Linked DNA regions of Homo sapiens. The protein of the gene in region 5 purifies or fractionates together with the protein of the main gene of each other region. This does not show direct contact. Each region holds a gene or a part of one and is shown on either strand. Other genes may lie near its edges.

What was found.
Region 1: the proteins of THOC7 (region 5) and WDR36 fractionate together in Homo sapiens (co-fractionation; one large-scale study listed by BioGRID). This does not show direct contact.
Region 2: the proteins of THOC7 (region 5) and ZC3H15 fractionate together in Homo sapiens (co-fractionation; one large-scale study listed by BioGRID). This does not show direct contact.
Region 3: the proteins of THOC7 (region 5) and ZC3H11A purify together in Homo sapiens (affinity purification with mass spectrometry; 2 studies listed by BioGRID and IntAct, with this or other methods). This does not show direct contact.
Region 4: the proteins of THOC7 (region 5) and ALKBH5 purify together in Homo sapiens (affinity purification with mass spectrometry; one large-scale study listed by BioGRID and IntAct). This does not show direct contact.
Region 6: the proteins of THOC7 (region 5) and PPIP5K2 fractionate together in Homo sapiens (co-fractionation; one large-scale study listed by BioGRID). This does not show direct contact.
Region 7: the proteins of THOC7 (region 5) and ZCRB1 fractionate together in Homo sapiens (co-fractionation; one large-scale study listed by BioGRID). This does not show direct contact.

Annotation. Positions count from the first base shown.
Region 1 is NC_000005.10:111,098,848-111,102,347, forward strand, and holds part of WDR36 (WD repeat-containing protein 36), read left to right. Parts: intron 1-1,741; coding exon 1,742-1,874; intron 1,875-3,497; coding exon 3,498-3,500. UniProt on the Homo sapiens protein: Part of the small subunit (SSU) processome, first precursor of the small eukaryotic ribosomal subunit.
Region 2 is NC_000002.12:186,506,561-186,509,861, forward strand, and holds the end of ZC3H15 (zinc finger CCCH domain-containing protein 15), read left to right. Parts: intron 1-152; coding exon 153-276; intron 277-1,982; coding exon 1,983-2,173; 3' UTR 2,174-2,801; downstream 2,802-3,301. UniProt on the Homo sapiens protein: Protects DRG1 from proteolytic degradation. Stimulates DRG1 GTPase activity likely by increasing the affinity for the potassium ions.
Region 3 is NC_000001.11:203,847,623-203,851,122, reverse strand, and holds part of ZC3H11A (zinc finger CCCH domain-containing protein 11A), read right to left. Parts: coding exon 3,436-3,500; intron 2,793-3,435; coding exon 2,716-2,792; intron 1,413-2,715; coding exon 1,097-1,412; intron 609-1,096; coding exon 442-608; intron 67-441; coding exon 1-66. UniProt on the Homo sapiens protein: Through its association with TREX complex components, may participate in the export and post-transcriptional coordination of selected mRNA transcripts, including those required to maintain the metabolic processes in embryonic cells.
Region 4 is NC_000017.11:18,197,328-18,200,827, reverse strand, and holds part of ALKBH5 (RNA demethylase ALKBH5), read right to left. Parts: intron 1-3,500.
Region 5 is NC_000003.12:63,853,806-63,857,305, forward strand, and holds part of THOC7 (THO complex subunit 7), read right to left. Parts: intron 1-3,500. UniProt on the Homo sapiens protein: Component of the THO subcomplex of the TREX complex which is thought to couple mRNA transcription, processing and nuclear export, and which specifically associates with spliced mRNA and not with unspliced pre-mRNA.
Region 6 is NC_000005.10:103,175,801-103,179,300, reverse strand, and holds part of PPIP5K2 (inositol hexakisphosphate and diphosphoinositol-pentakisphosphate kinase 2), read right to left. Parts: intron 2,436-3,500; coding exon of another isoform or gene 2,391-2,435; intron 1,635-2,390; coding exon 1,527-1,634; intron 1,438-1,526; coding exon 1,321-1,437; intron 1-1,320. UniProt on the Homo sapiens protein: Bifunctional inositol kinase that acts in concert with the IP6K kinases IP6K1, IP6K2 and IP6K3 to synthesize the diphosphate group-containing inositol pyrophosphates diphosphoinositol pentakisphosphate, PP-InsP5, and bis-diphosphoinositol tetrakisphosphate, (PP)2-InsP4.
Region 7 is NC_000012.12:42,316,095-42,319,594, forward strand, and holds part of ZCRB1 (zinc finger CCHC-type and RNA-binding motif-containing protein 1), read right to left. Parts: intron 1,805-3,500; coding exon 1,693-1,804; intron 1,354-1,692; coding exon 1,246-1,353; intron 1-1,245.

The DNA.
Region 1 (3,500 bases), on a different chromosome or scaffold from region 5:
TAACTCATTTATTTGCTTTATCTTAGGGTAGTATGTGTTTAATTAAAATTTAAAATCTATGTAAACATCTATGCCAGAGATTTTGCCTGTAAATAGTAAGAAATTAAAAAAATCAAAAATCTTTAACGTGTAAGAAAAAAAGTTCTAAGTAAGAAAGAGATAAACAACTTTAGCAAGTTAACTACTTATAAACTGTTTAATGTGCTTACCTCAACTAATGTATTTTCCATTGCAGTTCTCCAACTTTAATGATTTGTTGTATTGTTTTCCCTGTGGAGTGAATATTGATGTATTTTCATACCTGAGTAATTCTTGGTTTGTATTTTCACCTTTTAGTAAAGGAGACTGTAATAGTAAACTTGATCTTGTAATCTGAAGGAAAATATACATCCATTTCCTAGGGATATGAGTCAGTTTCTTTCAACTGTGATAGCTTAGACAGTGGCTATGTTTATGGGATTATGTATCTTTAAACATGAAGAATTTATCCCTAGGATATCTACACCTTTCCTCAATAAAATACTGGGTTCATCATGAATTGAATCTTTTAAGTTCTTTAATCTGGTTACATTTTTAGCTTATATTGCCTCTTGGTTTTTTTTTGTTTTTTTTTTTGTTTTTTTTTTTTTTTTTTTTTCAGTAAATATCCTGAAGATTGCATTTCTGGGAATTATTCCAGGTTCTTGTTTCAGATTAGTAACCCTTTTCTTGTTTTGTTTTTGCTCAAGTAGAGGGAGGGAACAGAATTCCAAAAGTATTCCCTGTGCAGATAGAAGTTAAAAGGGCTTTTATTAGGTTACAGGATCTGGTTCTTACATTCCAGCAGACTCTCTTGAACCAGTATATTCAGGGAGCCATTTGTAGTGACTGACGAATAAAGGCAAGGATCTCTTAAAATAGCATTCAAAGTAAAGTTTATATAATTTTCACCTATACCTGTACATCCTAAACTGTGGTACCCATACCCTGGGATTGTACAGTAGTGTGCCAGATAGTATGTGAACCTAAAGATTAAGTGAAATGTACCTTCTTTGATACACAAATTTACTGGAAAATAGAGTGGAACATTGTTTTAATCATGGAGGAACTGTAAAGTGAAAAGCAGAATTCAAACATAGAAATTTTGAATGTAACCAAAGATTTCAGAGAATTTTTTTATCTTGGAGCAAGTGACCACTGGTGATGCCACCCCCCACTCCACAGGGTTATACGTTTTTTTTTTCTCCTTTATTAGAGATTATTTTGTGGAAATGTGTGAGAAGTACTCTTATTTCACTGAGGTGTGTCTTTTATTTTTGGCATTTTTTGAGTGGCCCATCAAACTTTCCAGATAATTGGCTCTTCGTTCCCTGAAAGAGCTAAGTATAAGCACTTCACTTGGAATATTCACTCCTGTCTGTTGATCAAATTACAGAAACATGAATGCTAATCCTTAGGATCTTTTTTTTTTAACTTTATTATCCTTTTCTGTAAAGTAATTCAAAAGTGAATGAAACTTTTAATAGTATTTTTATTAGAAGTTACAGAAAATTTTTGACAGTCTAAATTAAATTACATTTACAAGTTGCCTCTCATTTATTTTATTTCTCAAGGAATGTTTATAGATTAGTATCTAAGTCTGTGGTTTATTTTAACATATAAATCTTTGATGTGATAGACTTACTTTAAGTGATAAATATATGGTTACATAAAACATTTTAAACTATTTTATAAAAAATATTTATAACTTTCACTTTTGTAGAAGAATACCTGCAGTTGACTTTTGATAAATCAGTATTTAAAATTTCTGCAATTTTGCATCCAAGTACCTACTTGAATAAAATACTTCTGGGCAGTGAACAAGGAAGCCTGCAGTTGTGGAATGTAAAATCCAAGTAAGTATTTTAGTTAGAAAATAATATAGCTGTCACCTTATCCTCATCTACTACTTCCTAATGTATACTTAAGTCTCATTTCTCCCTGCCCTTGTATATTTATTTGGAGGGTTGTCTATAAATAACAGTTGGTCCCCTGTATCAGAGGAGTCAATTAACCTGGGATCAAAAATATTCAAGGAAAAATAAATAAATAATAATACAACAATAAAACATCACATTTTAAAGTAGTACAGTATAACAGCTATTTACATAGTATTTACATTATATTAGGTCTTATAAGTAAGCTAGAGATTATTTAAAGTATATGCATAAATGTGTGAAAGTTATATGCAAATACCACACCATTTTATGTAAGGGACTTGAGCATCTGTGAATTTTGGTATCAGCAGAGAAGTTGGGGAAGTCCTGGAACCAATCCCCCACAGGTAGTGAGATATAACTATATGTTTGCTTTTGGAGTTGTTGCTGGTGGCATCACATATGTGAAAGGTGGCATGTGATCCTGACACATGTTAGACAGCTTCATAAATGCTCACTGAAAAGTATGTACTAATGACCTAATAACTGTAAAGAATTGCTATAGAGAAGGCTCTAATAAAGGTCTATGAGATCCATCAGAAAATAATAATAATGAGATTATTACTAGGGAGCTTCTGATTTTCCATACATGAAGATTTTCTATACATGAAGAAGGTAAAAGATGGAAAGGCAAATCAATAATTTAGTGCTAGCATTTAGAAATGATTTTTAGGGTTAAAAGTACTTCCATAATCTCCCATAGATATGGCAAATATCTAATATTGATGTAGCTAGAGGGCTGGATACATGATTTTGAATACTTCTATCCATTATGTAAACATTTATCAGTAGAAAAAGGTGGCAGCTCACACTTCTTTGTATAGCATTTTAAAAAGCAAACAAAAATATTTGACCATCCAAATTGTTTTTTTCCAAAGTCCTTTTAAATTCAAAAGGGAAAATAAGATTATTAAAGGTTTGATGTTTTAAATCAGTGTTTCATTACAATTTAACAAATACCATTGACTGCCTACTTTGTGCTAGGTTCAGCAATAGTGACTGAAATACTGTCTTTGCCCATTTACAGAATTTAATACATGATTTAATATTTTAATGATAATTATAATGATTTCAGATACCTCTGTTTGCTCCATGGATGTGTTATTTATCATTCATGACTTGCTTCTGAAATTGAGAGCAGCATTACTGTTGTCATATAACAGTCATATAACATGCAAATAATATTTTTATTAAAATATAAGTTATTCCCTTTCATGATGTTTCTATAAAGATACTGCAGTCCTAAATTTTTTTTACTGTAGCCTGTAATATAACATGATTTTTACACACGTATTTTTTTTTCCACTTAGGACATTTAATTTCTTAATGAGGTGGCATAGCATAGTAGTTAGTTTGAGACCTAGAATTTGTCTGGACAATATTACTAACCTTGTGACATTAGCTTAATCATCAGAATAGTGTGTGGAAGAGTAAGAACTTAATAAATATCACCTATTATTATTTCACTTTTTAATGTGTAGCTGATATTGTTTTCCTCCAAAAAAAAAAAAATACAGCTTTCAACTATTTTTCTTCTTGTAGTAA
Region 2 (3,301 bases), on a different chromosome or scaffold from region 5:
GGATTACAGGTGTGAGCCTCCACACCTGGCCAGTAATTGGTCTTTTGTTTTCACTTGGATCAGTGATAATTTTGGCTCATTAAGATAAATGTCAGGAGTAAAAGAAAACTGTTCTTATTTGTAACAACTTTCTTTTCTATATGTTGTTAAAGGTTGATGATTCAGTGAGTGTAAATGACATAGATTTAAGCCTGTACATCCCAAGAGATGTAGATGAAACAGGTATTACTGTAGCCAGTCTTGAAAGATTCAGCACATATACTTCAGATAAAGATGGTAAGTATGCTAACTTTTGCCTAATTTTAAGAACTAGGAAGTTATCTAAAGGGGGTTATACCAGGCTTGGCAAACTTAGATGTGTGCAGGTACCAGATTGGTAACATAAATGTGTGGTTTGACCATAAATAAAAGCAGTAATAAATAGTGAAAGGCTGTAGACATGAGCAGCTGGGTGTATATTAAAATCATTAATGGAAACTAGAAGGAGACAAAAATGAGCTTGGAGTTAAAGTCAATGAGTTCACTTCGGGACCTCATGAGTTTGAGATTTTTTGATTATCAAAAGTGCACTGTCTAGGATATTGTGTAGACATGAACACCCTACAGAACATCAGTGTTATGGGGTAAGTAAAAGAAGAAATGCTTAGGAAAGACATTGAGAAGGTCAGAGAAAAATCAAGAAACAAGTTTCCAAAGAAGCAAGTAGGATGAAAAAGAATATAAATAAGTTACTGGTTGTAATTGGTTATAGGAATAGGGTGCCAGTTTCATTGAGACTGCAATGATAACGGTGAGAAGAAAAATGAATACAGTCCTCTCTCTCTTAATGTTTAGAGGGAAGACATGGTCATGGGAAGGGCTTTTTAGGATATGGAAAACCTAAATGTATCTGTAGCTCAGAGGAAGAGGATCTGGTAAGGAGGAGAAGTTGATGATAAAAGATTAGTTATAGAAGCAATACATGAAAGTATAAATAATGAGTTAGGTATGAGAATGGAGGGAAGGCTGTCTAGGATTGTTGGTATAATTTATGTCTAATTGTGCCTTGAGTTAGGTACTTGAAGAAAGGGGTAAAAGTTTGGCATGCTTGCTCTGGGAGAAAACAGCAGAAGAAATGCCCATTAAGGCAAAAGCTGAGACAGAAAAGGCTGAACATTATTTTTACAATAAAAGCACACAAGCTGTAACTTGAAAAACCAGCTTGCCCTCCCAAGATCTGAGAGTGTTAGCAAACCACTATCTTGCCAGTATTCAGATTGACTTGCTCTTTGTAGAAGTAGGGGCTTTGGTGACAATAGGCACAACTGCAAATAATTCAGAGATTATAAAATTCCCAAGACTTTGTCATCAGAGATGTTTGAAATAACTAAAATCTAAATTAGGCTGTTAAAAAATGTCTGTGTAATTGTCAATGGCATTGAACAAGAAAAGGCAGCATTTTTTTTCTCTCAGTTATTTATAACCTATAAGAAAAAGTAGCTGTATAGCACTATGTTTTTTTTTAACAATTTGATTACATGATGAAGATTTTCTGCTGTCACAATCACAGCATTACAACAGCATGATTTAAATACTATTTGCAAAACCAAAAGCCAAGTAGCTGCTTATATTACAAACATTTTTTTGGTTTCCATAACCATTTAGTCAAATAAAATATTATATGGAAATTGACTATTTAAAATCTAATTGCTAGGTCATGTAGGGAACACAGAGGTGTAGAAGATTGATCCTGCCCTCAAATGTATAAACCATTAAGTAGTCAAATGGCTACAGTGAAAAACAGTATTTTATAGTAGGTATAGATAATTGGCACAGATAAGCTCAGAAAAGAATGATCAGTTCTTGCTGGAGTAATTCTGGGGAAATGGCTTTCATGGAGAAAAGGAAAAGAGGAAGTGTAGTATCAGTCTATGTTGTCTATTGCTAATGTGGAATGGTGTTTTCTGCTTCTACGCCTTACTGATTCCAGTTTTTATATTTAGAAAACAAATTAAGTGAAGCTTCTGGAGGTAGGGCTGAAAATGGTGAAAGAAGTGACTTGGAAGAGGACAACGAGAGGGAGGGAACGGAAAATGGAGCCATTGATGCTGTTCCTGTTGATGAAAATCTTTTCACTGGAGAGGATTTGGATGAACTAGAAGAAGAATTAAATACACTTGATTTAGAAGAATGACACCAAACACATCGCTGAAAAAATTAAGTCAGCTCAGCACGAGTTGAAATTGACTACATTAATTTCTTTCCACCTAGAATCAACAGGATGTTTATTTCCTATGCTGATTCTGGAGGAGTTAACCTCCTGCAAAAAAGGCATCTTGTCCCTACATCTTCTCTTCTGACTTTGGCTACATCTCATAGTAAGTTCAGAGTAGTTCATGATAAATTGAAAATATAATGGTCATTGCAGAAAATGATTGATGTTGTAACTGTCCACCCAAGTAAGAAGTGTATCTGCCTTTCCATCTTTTGGTTTTCATTTGGGCATGTGCTATTACCAGAAACAACAAACTTATATTTAAAATACCCTTCATTTGACACAGTTTTTAATGAGTGATTTAATTTCCTCTGTATTTGTATGTTTAGAAGACTGCCTAAAACATGAGCACTGTACTTCATAAAGGAAACTGCGTATGCAGATTCAGTATTGTGTATCTTTGGACAATTAGATGGACATTTAAAATGGAACTTCTTTTATCTGACAGGATCAGCTACAATGCCCTGTGTTAAATTGTTTAAAAGTTTCCCTTTTCTTTTTTGCCAATAAAGTTGTAAATAAAGACCATCATACATTAAAATCCAAATATGGGCCTTTTTTTAAGTTTTTCTATGAAAAATTTAACATTTCTAGCTTGAGAATTTTAAATACCTGTTATAATATCACATAGGCATGTTTTCTTAATATTTACTACAGAAGCATCTAGAGTACTTGACAGTACTACAATGAGTTTAATAACACAAATACTAAGCTTCCAAAAAGAGACTTTAGGAGATGTTATATAAAAGAGTAACTTCTGAATTGATACAACATCAACCAAATTAAATATCACCTGCAGTTGAATCAAGTAATGCTTAAGAATTGTTTGTTGAGATTCATGGTGTTAAAATAGTACATACTACTGTAAGTATAAACAAATTCACCAGAAAACTTTGGGCTGAGGGTCTTTGGCACTAAGAGCCCCTGAAAAATTAGGGTGATAATACATTTAAAATGGACACAATTTGCTAATGACATATTTAGTACTAGCTACACCTTTTTTATTGTTATGTTTTGTATTTTCAAATAATATGTTGCTTTTGTTAT
Region 3 (3,500 bases), on a different chromosome or scaffold from region 5:
GTCTCTAGGATTTTCTGCTTCAGGCACAGTGACTGATTTGTCCTCAGAGACAAGCGGGACAACAGCCTACAAAAGGAAGAGTCAGGTAATTCAGTGAGAGTCAGGCTTTTTAATTTGAGCATATTCATTTTCTTTTGCTGCCTTCTTAGAATTGTGGCTATGATTCTTTAAGCCTGTGAATCTAAGAATCGATAATCTAAAGGTTGAGTATATAAATAAGCAAAATATCTTGCCACCTAAAAATTAGCTTTTAAAAAATCCTGTCCTGCTACTTCACAAATATCAAACTGTAAGTATAAAATACAGTAGTAACCCAAATTACTAAAATGCTAGGAAATGCCAGGAAGTGATATACTCAAGATAGAATGCTAGTGGAGAGTTAGTCTTTCCTGCTTTCCTACCACACAGAATAAAGCACCACAAAGTGAATATACTTCTTACCACAGCTGCCTTTTTGGCTGGGGGTTCCTGTAGGACACTGCTGGAGCTGAGTGGCTTCACAGCGGCAATGACAGCAGCGTGCATCTCCACTGCCTTACGTTTTGGGGCCAATTTGGGGGATGACACAACTTTAACCACAGATGGCTTCACGTTCACTTTGGGTTTAGCTACAAAGGGCAGAAAATATCTGATAAGCAGTGAGAATAGACTCTTTTAAATGGGGAATAATTCAGAATAAAATATCAAAACTCCTTCAGTACTAGAAATACCACAAATAATTCATTTAAAAAGAGACTGAAAACGATTCAAAGGCAATTTGTGGTCACATGGTGGTCACTACAGGTGGTCACCATGTAGATACAATACCACTTAAATTTGTTACCATTCCTCTATTCCTTGTTTTTATTCAATACCAGAGGAAAGATGCACCATAGAAAGTTTTACACAAAGCTTTTTAAATAGCAATTTTAAATTCTGAGAAAAGAATTCATCTCGTTTTGCCTCTGTATAAAAATATCAGAAATATTACTATCTACCTGTGGATAGAAGGCAAATGAAATTCAACCCAATTGTTGCCAGGAAGTTACTGGCAACAATTGGGTTGAATTTGGTAATTTTGATAACCTAAAGCAATACACAGTATAGAAATACTTGCCTTTACCCCTTTTTTCCAAGGTCTGTGCTGCACATTTCACATTCAATAATGAGTCTCCAATCCCTGAGGTTTCTACCTCCACCTTCTGGGATGACTTTGTGGGAAGCCGCTTGGTCAGGTGCCGTGTGATTCCTGGCACAGCAGTGAGCACTGGTTTCTCTGCCACTTGGGTATTGCAAGAGGCTACATCTCCCCGAAGAGGTGTCAAGACTGATTTTTCCCTCTCCTGCTGTTTCTGCATGTGCTTCTCTCTCATGGTCTCACATCTCTTGACTTGAATTTTAGTGATGTCAACTCCTGTGGTCTCACCTGAAGCCTGTGGATAAATTTGAATGACAGAATTAAAATCTGGTACCTCTAATAACCTGTATGATGTAAGTACCAGGCTAACATCTAAGTTAAGCAGAATCTCACATGATCCAGAATCTGAGAGAAAAGCTCTTTATTTGATGTTAAATAGACAATACCCTGTTAAAGATGAAAGATTAGAATTACAGATGTATGGAATAATAAAAAACCCAGATTCCACAGGCTAGACAACCATGACTCTAAGTCAAATACTAATGATTCCTAAATAATCAAATACCTGCACAAAGATTTATGTACAAATATATTACTTTAAATTGTGTAAAACAAAATCTGAATGTCCAGAAAAAGACTGTATTTGTATAATGGAGAATCATGTGGTCAGTAAAAACAAACTTCTTGAAGAATTATTAACATGGTAAAGTTAAAGCAGGCTGTAAAATGATACACTGTAGAGTTCTCCATTATGTTCTAAACATGGGTTTAACATTAAACAAATTCACATGCATGCATATATAAACAAAAAGGTCGAAGAAGGCCAAGTGTGGTGGCTCACACATGTAATCCCAACACGTTGGGAGGCCAAGGCAGGCAGATCACTTGAAGCCAGAAGTTCGAGACCACTCTGGACAACATGGAGAAACTCTGTCTCTACTAAAAATACAAAAATTAGTCAGGCTTGGTGGTGCATGCCTTTGATCCCAGCTACATGGGAGGCTGAGGCACAAGAATCGCTTGAACCCAGGAGGCAAAGGTTGCAGTGAACCGAGATCATGCCACTGCACTCCAGCCTGGGCAACAGAGCAAGACTGAAAAAGCTCGAAGAAATCCATGGAAAAGATAATGATGGTTACATCTGAGCTGTATATTTTTAGGGTTTGTTCAGTTTTAAAAAAAATAAAATTTCCAACTTTTGTATGATGCATAGCATTAGAAAAAACTCAGTTAAAAAAAAGTAATGGCCAATTAAACAAAAAACTTTATTTTTTGTATTTTTAGTAGAGACGGGGTTTCACCGTGTTAGCCAGGACGGTCTCAATCTCCTGACCTCGTGATCCGCCCGCCTCAGCCTCCCAAAGTGCTGGGATTACAGGCGTGAGCCACCGCGCCCGGCAAACAAAAAACTTTAAAAGGGCAGCGAATACTGATATACATAGAACTACAGGAAATTCTCATAAGAAATTATAAGTAAAAAGAAAGACTGTTTACCTAATATATGAATGAAGTACTTAGAAATTTATTGTAAGGTAAAACTACCAATTATCTAGCCTTTGTTTGCCATGAACAAAACCATACAATAATCTTAAATTTACCTCTTTAGCTTCTGTTCTAATACTGCTCTGAGAATCAACTTCATTTCCTTCCTGAAGGTTCTTCTCTTCTTTCATCCCTGTATTCACATTAAAGACATCATTAGTTATTTTATTTAAGCTGCAACTTCATGATAGATATGTTAAACAAAACTTTATTTAATGAAAGTAGTAAGACAGGACAAATAAAATTACAGATAAAGCCCATCTGTGCTCCTAAAGTCTCAAAATACACATTAAAATAGCAAAGGTTGGCCGGGCATGGTGGCTCACACCTGTAACCCCAGCACTTTGGGAGACTGAAGCAAGCAGATCACACTTGAGGTGAGGAGTTTGAGACCAGCCTGGCCAACATGCTGAAACCCCATCTCTATTAAAAATACAAAAATTAGCGGGGTGTGGTGGCACATGTCTGTAGCCCCAGCTACTTGGGAGGCTGAGGCAGGAGAATCACTTGAACCTAGGAGGTGGAGGCTACAGTGAGCCAAGGTCATGCCACTGCACTGCAGCCTGGGTGACAGAGTGAGACTCTGTCTCAAAAATAAAATAAAACAAAATAGCATAGGTCTACATAGCACTACTGAAAAACTTCATTTAATTCAGTGTTTTCAACGTTATCTGAGTAAAGAAAGGTTGTCAAACAACTCCTAGGAAGATCCCACGGAACACTCCTCTGGAATATTATGTGGGGACGTGGTACTAGAGACCAAGTTCTCTTGTTACCTGTTCTTTTGGTGATTCGCAGCAGCCGCCTTGCCCCTGGAGTGGCCTCGTGTTGAGACGGGGAG
Region 4 (3,500 bases), on a different chromosome or scaffold from region 5:
GTTCCAGAACAGAGTTCCTGGACTCCAAGCCTCTGTAAAGAGCATCTCTTCTGACTGAACTATCTTTGCCCCTGAGCCTCATTCTATGCTGGCTAAGGTCCAAGCATCCTTGACTACCTTCAGGTGGCACTTATCTGGAAAGCCTTCTTTGACCAGTTCCTGTTGAGATGCTAAATGTCTGCCTTTTCCCAAAGGACAAAAGAGAATAGGAACCCATACAAACCCCATTCCGGGTACTAGCACAGAGCCTAGCACACACCAGCTTAGGTTACCACTTGGCAAAGGGATCTCCAGCTGCATTTCCCAGCTTCAGACCACTCTGAGCTGAGTTCCACTTGACCAAAAGCAAATAAATGGGCTATATATACTGCTTTGTGCCACTTTATCTGGTTAACTGGAGAGTACCAATCTCAAGAATACAAGTCTCACAGTGCAATCCTGAGGGCCTCCTAAAAACCAAGGGATTGGGTGCCCTAGTCACCAACTCAAGGCCCCGAAGACCCATAAGCCATCTCTTGAGAATCAAATGTTGACCTAAGGCCTCCTTCCCTCTTTCATTCCTCATCTACAGAAGTCCCCTATATTTCCCTGCCTCCTAGCCTTTGAGCTTACCATTTCTGCCTGGCCAGCAATTTCTAGCTCAGGGGCCAGATCTACCAAGCTCACCTTTACCCTTCCTCCCGCAAAGCTGGATGTAATTTAAAAAAAAAAAAAATTTTTTTTTTTTTTTTGAGATGGAGTCTCGCTCTGTCTCCCAGGCTGGAGTGCAATGGTACAATCTCGGCTCACTGCAACCTCCGCCTCCCAGGTTCAAGCAGTTGTCCTGCCTCAGCCTCCCCAGTAGCTGGGATCACAGACACCTGCCACTATGCCCAGCTAATTCTTGTATTTTTAGAATTTTCATCACGTTAGTCAGGCTAGTCTTGAACTCCTGACCTCAGGTGATCCAACTGCCTCGCCCTCCTGAAGTGCTGGATTACAGGTGTGAGCCACCACGACCGGCCTGGGTTTTTGGGGTTTTTTTTGCAGGGCTCCCAGAGAATACCCTGTGCTTTTACACCAGTGTTCACTCTGCTTTGTGTTGGAATGGCAGGCAAAGTGCAAACTTATTACATGTGAAGCACCAAGGGGGCACTAAATTTCCTGCGGTGCCCACCTCAAGTGCCTTGTACATAGTAGATACTTGATGTTTCCCTCAAGTCAGAAATCCCTGCTCAAAGGCCATTCCAACTAGCAATGACCTGAGGCAGCTCACTTCCTACCTGAGCCCCTTTCCAAACAGAGTTCATACCTTCTAGTTTCAAGGTTAATATGTGGATGCTTGGCACAGGGCAGCTAGCAAGGCCTACCAGGAGCAGAAGCACAGAGTGCACTAGTGCAGGAGCACTAGGGAATCATGGGAAAACTGGAAGACTCCCCTCACAGATGAATTATTATACCCCAGAAGTTTGTCAGCCTCTTGGTTATCTAACTAGTAATTTAGAACTTTAACCACACCTCCAGTAAGGTTAGGTCCAGCCTCCCCTTCCAGGGTTACCAACGATTACAGAGAAAAGACTTGCATGCTGCGGCAGCTTGCCCTCGGTCGGCTGGGAGACAGTAACATTCAGGGAAGTTTGGGGGTGCTGAGGCACCTCAAAGAGCCGACTAGCCTGTAGCTGCTGCCTCACCCCACTCTCTGTAGAGTGCCCCCTACATACTCATAACATTCTCCCCAATCAGCACAACTCTCTACTTGCACAGCAGAGGCAAGAAAGCCCTTCTATATCTGAGCTCCAGTTTCCTAACTCAAAGCATCCATCCCAACGACACACTGGGGGAAAGGGCAGGACTTGGGGTACTCCACTGTGCAAACCACCAACGAACCACAAGACCCAGGTTCCAGGTGTCACTCAGCCATTTACTGGCTAAGTTGTGACCCCAAACATTATAACACCAAGGGACAGTCTGAGGATTCCACTCTGGGGAGACTTTTTTAAAAGGTTACTTCCAGCCTCCCCGTAAGAAACAAGGGCACATGTGCATGAAGACTTGGCACCACCCATGTTCACAGAAGCTGCGTTCTGTCCAACCAGAAAGCACTTGGCAGCTGCCCACCCATTTCCTTCCGTGAGGCCCTTAGAAAGACCTTTCCAGCTCTGACTGACCTGAGCTGGTGACAGAGCTCCCAGGGTCTCCACCAGCAGCCTGTGCAATCTTTATCTGAACTTATGAGAAGGCAGGACCGGCTCTAACTCCTCTACCATAATCAGGGCCAGGCTCAATGCCCAGATTCTACCCACTGTAACACAACCTCACCAGAAGACATCAAACCAGCCAGGTATCTTCCAAGGCCACATCATACTTATCTCCGGGCAATGCCTGGGCCAAGATGCTCCCCTTTTTAAACTTGTCACAACCCGTCCTTTCCCAAGACAAACCCATGTAGCTACTCTGGAGCTGCTCCTCACCGGCCTGAATTGTTCTCCACACTAGTTGATGCCTCCTCTGGGCTGCACCTCATGCTAGGCCCCAGATGAACAGGGATCTCCTTACTCCTACAGAATGCAGATTTGAAAATTCACAATGGCAAGCGTATGAGCTGTGACAGTCCAAACAGGGGTGTGTGTATGTGTCTGCATGTGTGCTGAAAGGGCTTTAGGTGATGCTAAAAAGCTAAAGGGCTTTTTATATGATGCTTTCTGCATGTCAAAATGGTCAATCTGAACGATGAAGAATGACTAGGTTATCTGAGGAGTTGGTTATCATGTAGGTTTATTTGGGGAGTTGGGATATGAATCAGAGGATGAACATGTTAGATGAGAAGGTATGCCCAATGGAGGCCACATTGCCACAAGAGCCCAGGCACAAATCCATAAACCATAACAGGAGCTGCAGATACTTTAGAGTTCCCCACAGCTGTGCACTTCCCCAGCTCAGCTACCTGGGGAAGCTGGGACATCCTCCCACTCTTCTCCAGTCCCCTTACACCACAGCTCTGTGCTTCTGCACTCCAGCCCAGTCTGTGAATGGTTCCTGGGCCCACTGAAGTCAGAAGGTAGAAGAGCTTCAGTCACCCAGTAACAGCCATTCCCAAGGTCAGGCCACTGGCAGGGACCTAGCTGGCTGAAAAGCTTCCCAGGGAGCTGATTAACGGTGCAGACTCCTAGCTGTGCTGAGGAGCATCTGACTCAGTTGGACTGGGCGGCCAGGTATGGGAGTCACCATTCAATAAAAGAGTAGCAGCTGGAAGACTGACACTCCAGCTATGGCCACTACCACCTGCACATCCAACTAAGATTTCCCCAAAATAAGCTATTATGGGAAGATGAGAGGAACTCTTGGGAAGTTACTGCTCTGGTTCTATGTAACATTAGAAGTTCCTCTCCAGGTTCCTGGCCTGGGCAGGCCACCCATCCCTGGCTGCAGTTGGAGGTACCAGGTACAGCCTGAGAAGAAATGACTGGAGGAGAGGCTGGAAGAGTGCTACACTCTGGACTCCATTGTTTCCGAGTTCTTGC
Region 5 (3,500 bases):
GCTGAGGCAGGAGAATGGCGTGAACCCGGGAGGTGGAGCTTGCAGTGAGCCAAGGTCGCGCCACTGCACTCCAGGCTGGGTGACAAAGCGAGACTCCGTCTCAAAAAAAAAAAAAAAAAATTTAATCCACAACTTGTATCATCCTATAAAAGTCAGAGTAAATGTTGAAGATTTATCTATAGATATATCTATGTAGATACATATTAGGCATTTATGCATATCAAGTTTTGCCCAGTTAGGATTCCTTACAAATTTGCTTCTGTCTCAAATTTACTGGGAAGGTCATGGCGTTTCTAGCTGAAATTGTGCACAGAGAGTTGCTGCCTAGAAAACTCTGTGGACAAGAATTATTGAAATAACATGTATAAAGTACAGAGCACAGCTCCAACAGAAACAGAATAAAACAAAAAGGTAAGCTCTCAGTTTGAGAATAGCCTCTGTTCTTTTTAAATTTAAAGATGGACTGCTGCTGATAGTTCCTAACACAAATGCCATGAGCATTATTATTTTTAATGACATCTTATCAATTAGCTCCATAATGAACACACTTAAAATATGTTTTGTTTACTATACATGTTGACTTCACAAATTATCATGCTTGAAACCCTCTGTAAGCAGTTTGAATGCTTATATTAGTAATTCTGCTGGGCTTTGGTCTATCCTGTAAAAACAGTAAAGATGGCTTAGCAGATTTTTTGTTATTTTTTTTATGTTATCAACATCACTCCTTGTCATAATTACTTTCTTTACTATGAGGATGAACATCATCTGGAAAGAGTTTCTAAACCAAAATACTTGACACCTGCTGTGAGGATGGTGGTTTTCCACCTGGCTTTAGGCTTGTAGGACAATGGCTGGATAATACCATCCATCTAGCTCCTGGAAAGACTGTGGAGTGTGAATCTGAGTCAAGAAAAGGAGGGCCGGGCGCGGTGGCTCACGCCTGTAATCCCAGCACTTTGTGAGGCCGAGGCGGGCGGATCACGAGGTCAGGAGATCGAGACCATCCCGGCTAAAACGCTGAAACCCCGTCTCTACTAAAAATACAAAAAATTAGCCGGGCGTAGTGGCGGGCGCCTGTAGTCCCAGCTACTTGGGAGGCTGAGGCAGGAGAATGGCGTGAACCCGGGAGGCGGAGCTTGCAGTGAGCCGAGATCCCGCCACTGCACTCCAGCCTGGGCGACAGAGCGAGACTCCGTCTCAAAAAAAAAAAAAAGAAAGAAAAGGAGGCAGCAATTAACTTCACGTATTAATTAGTGAGTAATATGACCACACATTGTCTAGAGTATACTGTCTATGAGGCAGGGGCATGAGATACATATTTGCTCATCAAAATGCCTCATATCCAATATGCCTAAATGTTAACCACTGAAAACATAAAAAAACAGGATTGGTTTAACAGTAGACTATTATCACAATTCTAGAACTTATGACTTCCTACTGGATTTCGTTATACCATAATTGCACATACAAAATATCTTTCAAAATCAGTTTAAAATCAGTAATGACACATTTATGCTGAAATGTAAATATTTACTTGCAAAATGGGATACATATATGCCAACATATAGCCAGAAGAAATATAAAATTATTCAAGACACCAAATAAGCCTCAAAAAGTCCTTAGATCTTAAAACTCTATGTTTCATAAACATAGAGGCAGGAAGAAATGACTCCTTTACAGTTACTAGAGCAACTCTAGATTTCTAGGCCTCTGGTCAGATGACACAGCCATTTTAGCTGTGCTCTCATTTTAGCATAAAAGGGAGTTTCTCATAAACCCAGACTAACGTTTTCAAAATTCATAATTGTTCTTTCCCTATATTTGCCATTAAAACCTTGATTACAAAACAACTTCAGAGACAGGTCAAGGCTTGACAACCAGAGGCAATAGCATCATTGTTATGTAACTCCTTGCTAAGGCTAAATTGCAGGTCAAATGTGGTTCCCTTTGAGGGAAGGCTGCAATCTCACCTGCCTTTGTGAACTAGTAATCCTGTGATCTACCAGTGAGGATTAGCATTTCCTTTCTAAATGCAGTTTGGCAAAAAATTTGGTAGGTACCAAACTGAAAGCCACAGGAAGGGATAACAATTTCAGACAGGATTATAGTGGGGAAAACAGCTAGCTACTAAGGCATTACAGCAAGATATACCAAAATTAAAGACACATATACCTTTTGACTTATCTTTTAGAAATTATTCCCACAAGTACGCGAATATATCTATGCAAATATCTCCATTGTAACACTGTTTGGAAGAGTAAAAAACTGAAAACAAACTAAATGCCAATAGAGGATCTGTCTAAAAAATTAATAGACTATACACACTGATATAAAAGAATAAGGTAGATTTATATTCAAAAGAGCTCCATGATAAGCTAAAAATTGAAACAACTGAACTCATGGAGGTAGAAAATAGAGATGGTTACGAGAGGCTGGGAAGAGCTGTGGGGTGTGTGGTGGCAGGGGAGGGGCGGGGATGCTTAATTAGTACAAAAACATAGAGTGAATAGGATCTAGTATTTGATAGCACAATAGGATGATTATAGTCAACAATAATTTATTGCACATTTTATACCAACTAAAAGAGCATAACTAGAATGTTTATAACAAATGATAAATGCTTGAAGACAATGGATATCCTATCTACCCTGCTGTGATTATTTTGCATTGTATGCATGTATCAAAATATCTCATGTACCCCATAAATATACGCACCTACTATATCACTTAAAAAAAATTTTATGGGTACACAGAAGTTGAATACAGACCAGTGTGTAAATGACTGTATAAAATTTTCAAGCATATATACCCACTGGTATACTAGCCAGCAGATACGTAACACTTAAATATGCTAAGGACTGCTTTAGATGCTTTTCACATATAAACACACTTAATCTACACAACAGCATTATAGATTTTTTTTTTTTTTAGACAGAGTCTTGCACTGTTGCCCAGGCTGGAGTGCGTGGCGCTATCTCGGCTCACTGCAAGCTCCGCCTCCCAGGTTCATGCCACTCTACTGCCTCAGCCTCCCAAGTAGCTGGGACTACAGGCGCCCGCTACCACGCCCAGCTAATTCTTTTGTATTTTTAGTAGAGACGGGGTTTCACCGTGTTAGCCAGGATGGTCTTGAACGCCTGACCTCGTGACCTACCCGCCTCGGCCTCCCCAAGTGCTGGGATTACAGGCGTGAGCCACCTTGCCCGGCCTCATTATAGATATTCTTATCCCTATTTTACCAATGAAAAAGCATCTTGCCAAAAATTAAATGTCACAGGAAGTAAGGAATAGAAATGGAACTCAAACTCAGGAGTCAGGCTCCAGAGAAGATACTTTTACCTTTTAGAGGCATTAAAAATCATTCTGGGAGAGGAATTATTACGGAAGGTAAAGAGGGGAAGGTTTTCATTTTTCATATTGTGCATTTCTTCTTGAATTTACTGACATGTAGTACTTTTTTTATGAAGTAGTAACAGTGGTTAACTGGGTGGTAAACT
Region 6 (3,500 bases), on a different chromosome or scaffold from region 5:
TACATTGATGAGCCTCATAAACATAATATTGGCCAAAAGAAAATAAACTGAGTACATAAAAACCCTCATCAAATTAAGGGTTACAGAGAATAAAAAGGTACTTCTTTAATCAAATAAGGGATATCCAAAACTTGAAGGGCTCATCACAGTTAATAATAAGACACTGAAAGATAAGAATGTCCACTATCACTAAATCTATTCATCATTCATAGATGATGTTATGATCATATACATAAAAAATCCAGATGACTCTAAGGGTAAATTATTAGAATGAATAACAGCATATATCAAGTTATAAGTTTGCTAGCTATAAAATTTTTATACAAAACTGAGTTAAAATTTAATATGACAAAAACAAAAAATGAAATTTAAATAAATCATAAATGAAATTTAATTTATCATAAATAAATCATTTATGACAGCATAAAAAACTATAAAGGAACTAGGAATTAATATGACAAAGATGGTGTAAAACAATTATTTGGTGCAAAAGTAATTGTGGTTTTTGCTATTATTTTTAATGAAAAAATAATGATTTTATCAAAAAATATAAAGTATAGTTAAATAAACTCAGAAATATACCAAGTCCTTAGACTAGAAGACCCAATACTGAAAAAGTATCATTTTTCTCCAAATTGATCTGCAGAGTAGTGGTAATCTCAATCAAAATCTCAAAGAGTCTTTAGAATATTATAAAATGATTATAAAATTTATATGAAAATGCATGAAACATGAAATATTTAACATAATCTTTAAGAACAACAAAGCTGGAGGAGTTCTATACTCAATATCAATATTTATTATAAAGCTATAATAATTAAGACTGTGGTACTGGTAGAGAGAGAGACAAATAGAGCAATCAAGTAAGACTAAAAATTCAGAAACCAACCAATCAAAATACAGACACAATATATGTCTGCAGTATCAGATGTAGTACTATAGGTGGCAGAAAAAGTATGAACTCTTGAATCTATGATACTGGGGTTTAGTTATTCATAGAGCGAAGACAACAAAACTGGACTGCACATCACATGTACTACATCCAAAAAAGTCAATTTTGGTGAATTAAAGGTTTAAGGTTATCCATTCTAAACACGGCCTTAAAATTCAAACAATCTAAACAAAAGATAAAATTCCTAGGTATTGCAATATGCATAAAAGTACAGTCTATACAAATCACACTTTAAAAAATTTAAACCATTTTCCTGCTTAGAAGTTAAAATAAGAATTATTTATAGTACATTATAAAAATCTCTTATAGAAACCTCATGAAAATCTAGAACTGTAGTAACTAAGCACTGAGAGTTCCACCTTCATTACCTCTCTGGAAGCTGGTCTATATCCATAGCCAGATGGCAAATTTTTGTCTTCTTCACAACCTTTGGCTCCCGGACTAAAGTGTAATTCAACATGAAAGCGTTCTTCTGAGGAAAGATCCTAAGAAATATGACAGAACATTTTCAAAATGAGAAACTTTAAGCTCTTTATTTATGTCTGGTAAAACACAAATCAAGAGCTCTGTTTACCTTATTAGGATCCTCATAAAGCATGATAACAATCTGAGTCATGTAGTTGAGCTCATTGACAACGTTTAAATAATCCATAGCTCGTTTCCACTGTTCATCCTTTGATTCCTGAACAAAAGATACATGTGGTAATCATTTTCTCAAACTGTGTTACTTGAAAGTCACTTTATTGTCACTATGGTAGCTTGTTTAATCCTAGTGATACCACATAAAGTGAATACTTATCATATGCAAAATTTTAAAAAATAATTCCACTACATTTAAAAGTCTTAGTATGTTATTTAAGCTTGTTTTGATAAAATATTTTTAAAATCTCTACAAGTTTGAGTATCCCTAACTTGAAAATCCAAAATCCAAAACCCTCCAAAATTCAAAACTTTTTGAGCACTAACATGACACTCGAAGGAAATACTCATTGGAGAATTTTGGGTTTTCAGATTAGGGATGCTAAACCAGTAAGTATAATGCAAGTATTCCAAAATACAAAAACAATTCCAAATTCCAAAAAACTTCTGGTCTCAAGCACTTCAGATAAGAGATATTCAACCTATATTAGAAGTTCTAGTGGTAACCTTTTTTAACTGCTTATACAAAATGAAAAATAAATAATTTCTTGAAATATGACAAACACTAATGAATTCTGAGGGTAAGAGACCGTTTTTAACTTTGTCAGGTTCCAAAGTACCTAGTATAGTATCATATTTCATAACCACAGAATACTATCCTATAACAGGAATGCCATTTTTTCCCACCATCATATAGTTCATGTATGCAATATAGGCCTATCAACAAGTATCCCTATTACACTGAAGTGATATTCAAAAATCAGAAGAAGGAGGCATATGTAAATTCTATTGATCTTACCATCTCCTTCACCATTCCTCCATCTTCATTCTGAGAATCATTGGTCTTTAAACATGTAATCATAGAGCATCAGAACTGAAAAGGATCTTAGAGAACATGTACTACAAGCATTCAAAGTAGAAAATTCTATCTGAAAAGGCAAAACTACTCAAAGTAAAGTCTATAGTCAACAGTTAACAGGATCTACTTAAATTATACGTACATCACAGATAAATTTCCTTTGTTGTATACTATGTAATTACATTACAAATATATAAAAGGACAACATTTCCTTTTTGTATACACTAAGAGTATACAATATTATGGACTTTAGTACAGAATGCACCTTGTTTTAAAAGCAAATTATAAGACCACACATTGACTGTATGCTTTTTAAAATTCAGCGTGTATTTTATTTCTGTTTTAGACATTATACATTCCGTGTGTGTGTGTGCGCACATGCATGTGTGCAAGTTTAGGAGGTAGTATGTGAAAAGATGTATTTTTTTCAAAATTGATAAGGGAAAACATAAATTAGCATTACTGAGTTTCACTAAATGTAAGTTAGCACAAATGATGAGTTTAAATACTGAAAATTTTCATTAGGTGAACAGATAATTGATCTTGTGATTTTGTGATACTCCAGTATTAAGAACACCATTTAATATCTAACTCAGTGTTGCAGTTATAGATTTTGCTAGGTCTTCTCTAATAAATAGATAAAATTAAGTAATATTTAGTAGTAACTTCCAGAACGTAATTAATATGTAAGAAGACACAAAAATATCTTTTTAAATTAAGGCCCCATTACACATATTCCTGAAATCTTATTTATAATCTTAGTTCCTTAACAAACTTTACAAATAATTCTACAGAAAGATTTTACCCCATCCATTCTGAATAATTAAAAATTACAAAGGGGAATATACTGAGTAAGATTTTAATTATATTACTTACAGATTCTTACAAGGATAATAAGAGTTGGGATAATGAAAACAAAACATTTTGGCAGACTTTAATTTTCATCTTAGTAAATACATGTAATTATTTTTCCCCCTGGAAGCACTGATTTTTAAAATAATGAAGTTGTTCAGTTTTTGTTTTAGAAATGCAGCCTGAATTCAATATATG
Region 7 (3,500 bases), on a different chromosome or scaffold from region 5:
ATGTTTATTTTTATTTTTGAGACAGAGTCTCCCTCTGTTGCCCAGGCTGGAGTGCAGTGGAGTAATCTCGGCTCACTGCAACCTCCACCTCCTGGGTTCAAGCGAGTCTCCTGCCTCAGCCTTCCAAGTAGCTGGGATTACAGGCACCTGCCACCATGCCTGGCTAATTTTTTTTTTGTATTTTTAGTAGAAACTCAGTTTCACTATGTTGGTCAGTCTGCTTTTGAACTCCAGACCTCAAGTGATCCGTCCACCTCAGCATCCCAAAATGCTAGGATTACAGGCGTGAGCCACTGTGCCCGGCCTGTTTCTTAAGTATTTTTATGGTCATTTTACAAACTTACACCTGTGAGAACCAGACTAAAATTCTCTTGGTACCAATACAGACCTTATACAAAATTATTCTATGGCTGTCTCTCTCTCTTCATCACCAAAACTTTAAATGGATAATGACAGATCATGAAGAGAACCAAAGAAGAAAATGTGGGGATAGTTCAGTTACAAAACACTAGCAATACTAATAGGAAAAAATAAAAAACTTCAAAACACAATATCCCATAGAGGATAAAGTCACATGATAATGTTGCTATTGAACTGTGACTTAAAAACTGTTAAAGAAACAGGCAATATCCTATTAACAAAAATTTATGAGTTACGAAAATCTTGCAAGACAGTGACATAAGTAATCAGTCTAACACTTTTAAAACTAGTGATTTTCAAAGATTTAGGAACTAGAGAAAATACCACTTTGTATTACCCAACTCAGGTTATCTTTACACATTGCATTTCAATTGAATTTACTTTGATGAGTTTAGAGACCCTAACAACTAGGCCAGGCACCATGGCTAACACCTGTAACTCTAGCACTTTGGGAGGCTGAGGTGGGAGGACTGCTTGAGCCCAGGAGTTTGAGATTGGCCTGGGCAACATAGGAAGACCCTGCCTCTACAAAAAAATTTAAAAATTAACCAGGGTGTGATGGTGCATGCCTGTGGTCCCAGCTACTCAGACACTGTGGTGGGAGGATCAGTTGGGCCCGGGAGGTAGAGGCTGCAGTGAGTTGTGACTGCATCACTGCACTGGGTGACAGAGGAAAACCCTATCTCAAAAAAATAAATATTAAAAAATAAAGCATTTTCATAATCTGGTTTAGCCAGTCAGAAGTTTTGGTGAGCAAAAATAAAAGACTGATGTGAAAAGTATCTTAAACTATGGAAAGTTCCATTAAGTTTTAGGTTTACTTACCCCACATTCATAACACTTAGATTTATCAAAGTAGTTTCGCCTTCGGATGAACTCAGCTGCTCTTCCATTGTCAATAGCAATGCTTGCTTTTATCACTCTACCAAATAACTAAACAAGAGAAAAATGTAAATGTAGAATGTATTTCACTGAAACCTAAAATTAATTATTTAATCAATTTTCTCAAATCTTCAATTCCAGTTTATTTTGGATTTTTTAGCAATTGTCACTTAGGTGTGATAAATTCTATTCTGTAGTATTCTTATTCCTGAGATTCCACCAATGTTTTGAGAACCCAGTAGTTTGACCTCTTTTCTTTCTATAAGTTAGATATCTTAAGAATCTACTGATATCTGCTAGACCTGATGATCCACTATATCCCCACATTTTTGGCCTGGATGAGCATAAAGGCTTTGGGGCTAAAAACCTTGATGGAGATGAATAGCTTACCTGTTTGTTGTTTATTGCCCTGGTACAGTTTTGTGCAGAGTCTTTATCCAAAAATAAAATAAATGCAACCCCTTTACTCTTCCTGGTATCTTTATCTTTCATGATGGTAACCCTTAAAGCATAAACAAAGAGTTAAAAATGAGGCAGCAATAAATAAAACAGATACTAATACTTGAAAAATTCATTTTAAAAAGGGCTAAAAATTTATAAGATAAATTAATACATTTGAAAAATCAGCTATCTCTTCAAAGTCAAGGGATATCAAGAATGGAAATGGGAAAGGGTGATACTGATTTAACAGAAGTGAGCACAGCTATGATTAGGAGTTAATCAGAGATTGAAGGGTGAAGTAAAGAAATTACAGAGACAATGAAATCTTAAAGTGTAACCACAATCCCTCTTCCATGCTAACTCCCTCACCTTGCAAAACAAAACAAAATAAAGGTATACTTTACACAAAAAGTAAAATGATTTATTTATTTTTCTAAGTGTTAGAATCAAAGTATATTCTTAATATTCTTTTAAAGAATCTTCAGAAAAATAAGGAAAAAAACCCTCCAGAGCTGGTTGTGGTGGTGCGCACCTGTAGTTCCAGCTACTTGGGAGGCAGAGGCAGGAGGATGCTTGAGCATGGGAGTTTGAGAACAGCCTGGGCAACATAATGAGACCCCGATCTTTAGGGAAAAAGAATCTCCAGTTCTGTGGTTTTTAGCCATACCACCCACCAGGGTGTACCTGAGTGACAAGGAGAGTTATGAGAGCACAGAGCCTGCTCTTTCTCCTGCCCCATCCACATCCCTAGTCATGGAGGCCCTTGCCCACCGTATGTCATTTAACATAGTTTAAAAACAATGTTCAACAGGGCTCTTTGGAGAAATAGCGGATTCCAAGGCTACAGCAGGGCAGGTACAAGAGGAGCTTGGAACATCTTATGCCAGAAGGTAAGAGAGTGCAAGAGTGCGTGAGCGAGTGAGAGAGAGAGAGACGGAGGGAGGAATGAATGAATGAATGATGGGGCCAAGAATACAGCAGCCAGCTGGAAGGAGCTCCCACTGGCCAAATCAAGGACAATTTGAGCATCAAAATAATTCATTACAGTAATAAATTATAAGCCACAGAGAAGGTAGGAATTTATAATTCTTACTGATAAAAGACCAATAAATAAGTGGAGGAGATGGGAGGGAAGGCTCTTGCTTACAACAGAATGCCAAGGGATGACTGGTGAATGTAGAGGGAATGCTGGAGTTGGAAAAATCACCAATTTGACAGAAATATTGAATAAGGTAGTTGCTTTATGTTTTGGAATTTTTCGTAATGTTTGTGAAAGTTATCAGTCTTTTTTTTTAAAGTAGTATTTCAAAAGAAGTATTGGCTTTCTACATCATCCTCAATTAATGATCTCTCATCTGTTGCCTCTTTTCCAATTCCACTGCTTTTTTCTTGTCCATAGGGGCATTACTGTTTTAACAGTCTATTCTTATTGGTTCCTTTATGGTAATTTTTTCTCTTATAATTTTCTCATATCCTTAAGTAGTCTTCTACTTAAGGAATAAATAAAATCACACCATTCCTTTGTTCAAAAATCTTTGGTTCTGTAAGTTGCCTATTCTTTGTCCCACTGTCAGTATCCTTGATGATTTGGCTCCCATCTCCTTCATCTTTCACTGCTCCTTCCCACGCACACACTATGAAGTCTACCCAAAAGAAACCACTCAATGCTCCAGTAGCATGGCCTGTATTTCCCCAAATTTGTGCCTTTGTTCATACAGCTTCTATCTTCTTCCACCTCTGAATCACTGCTCATTAAA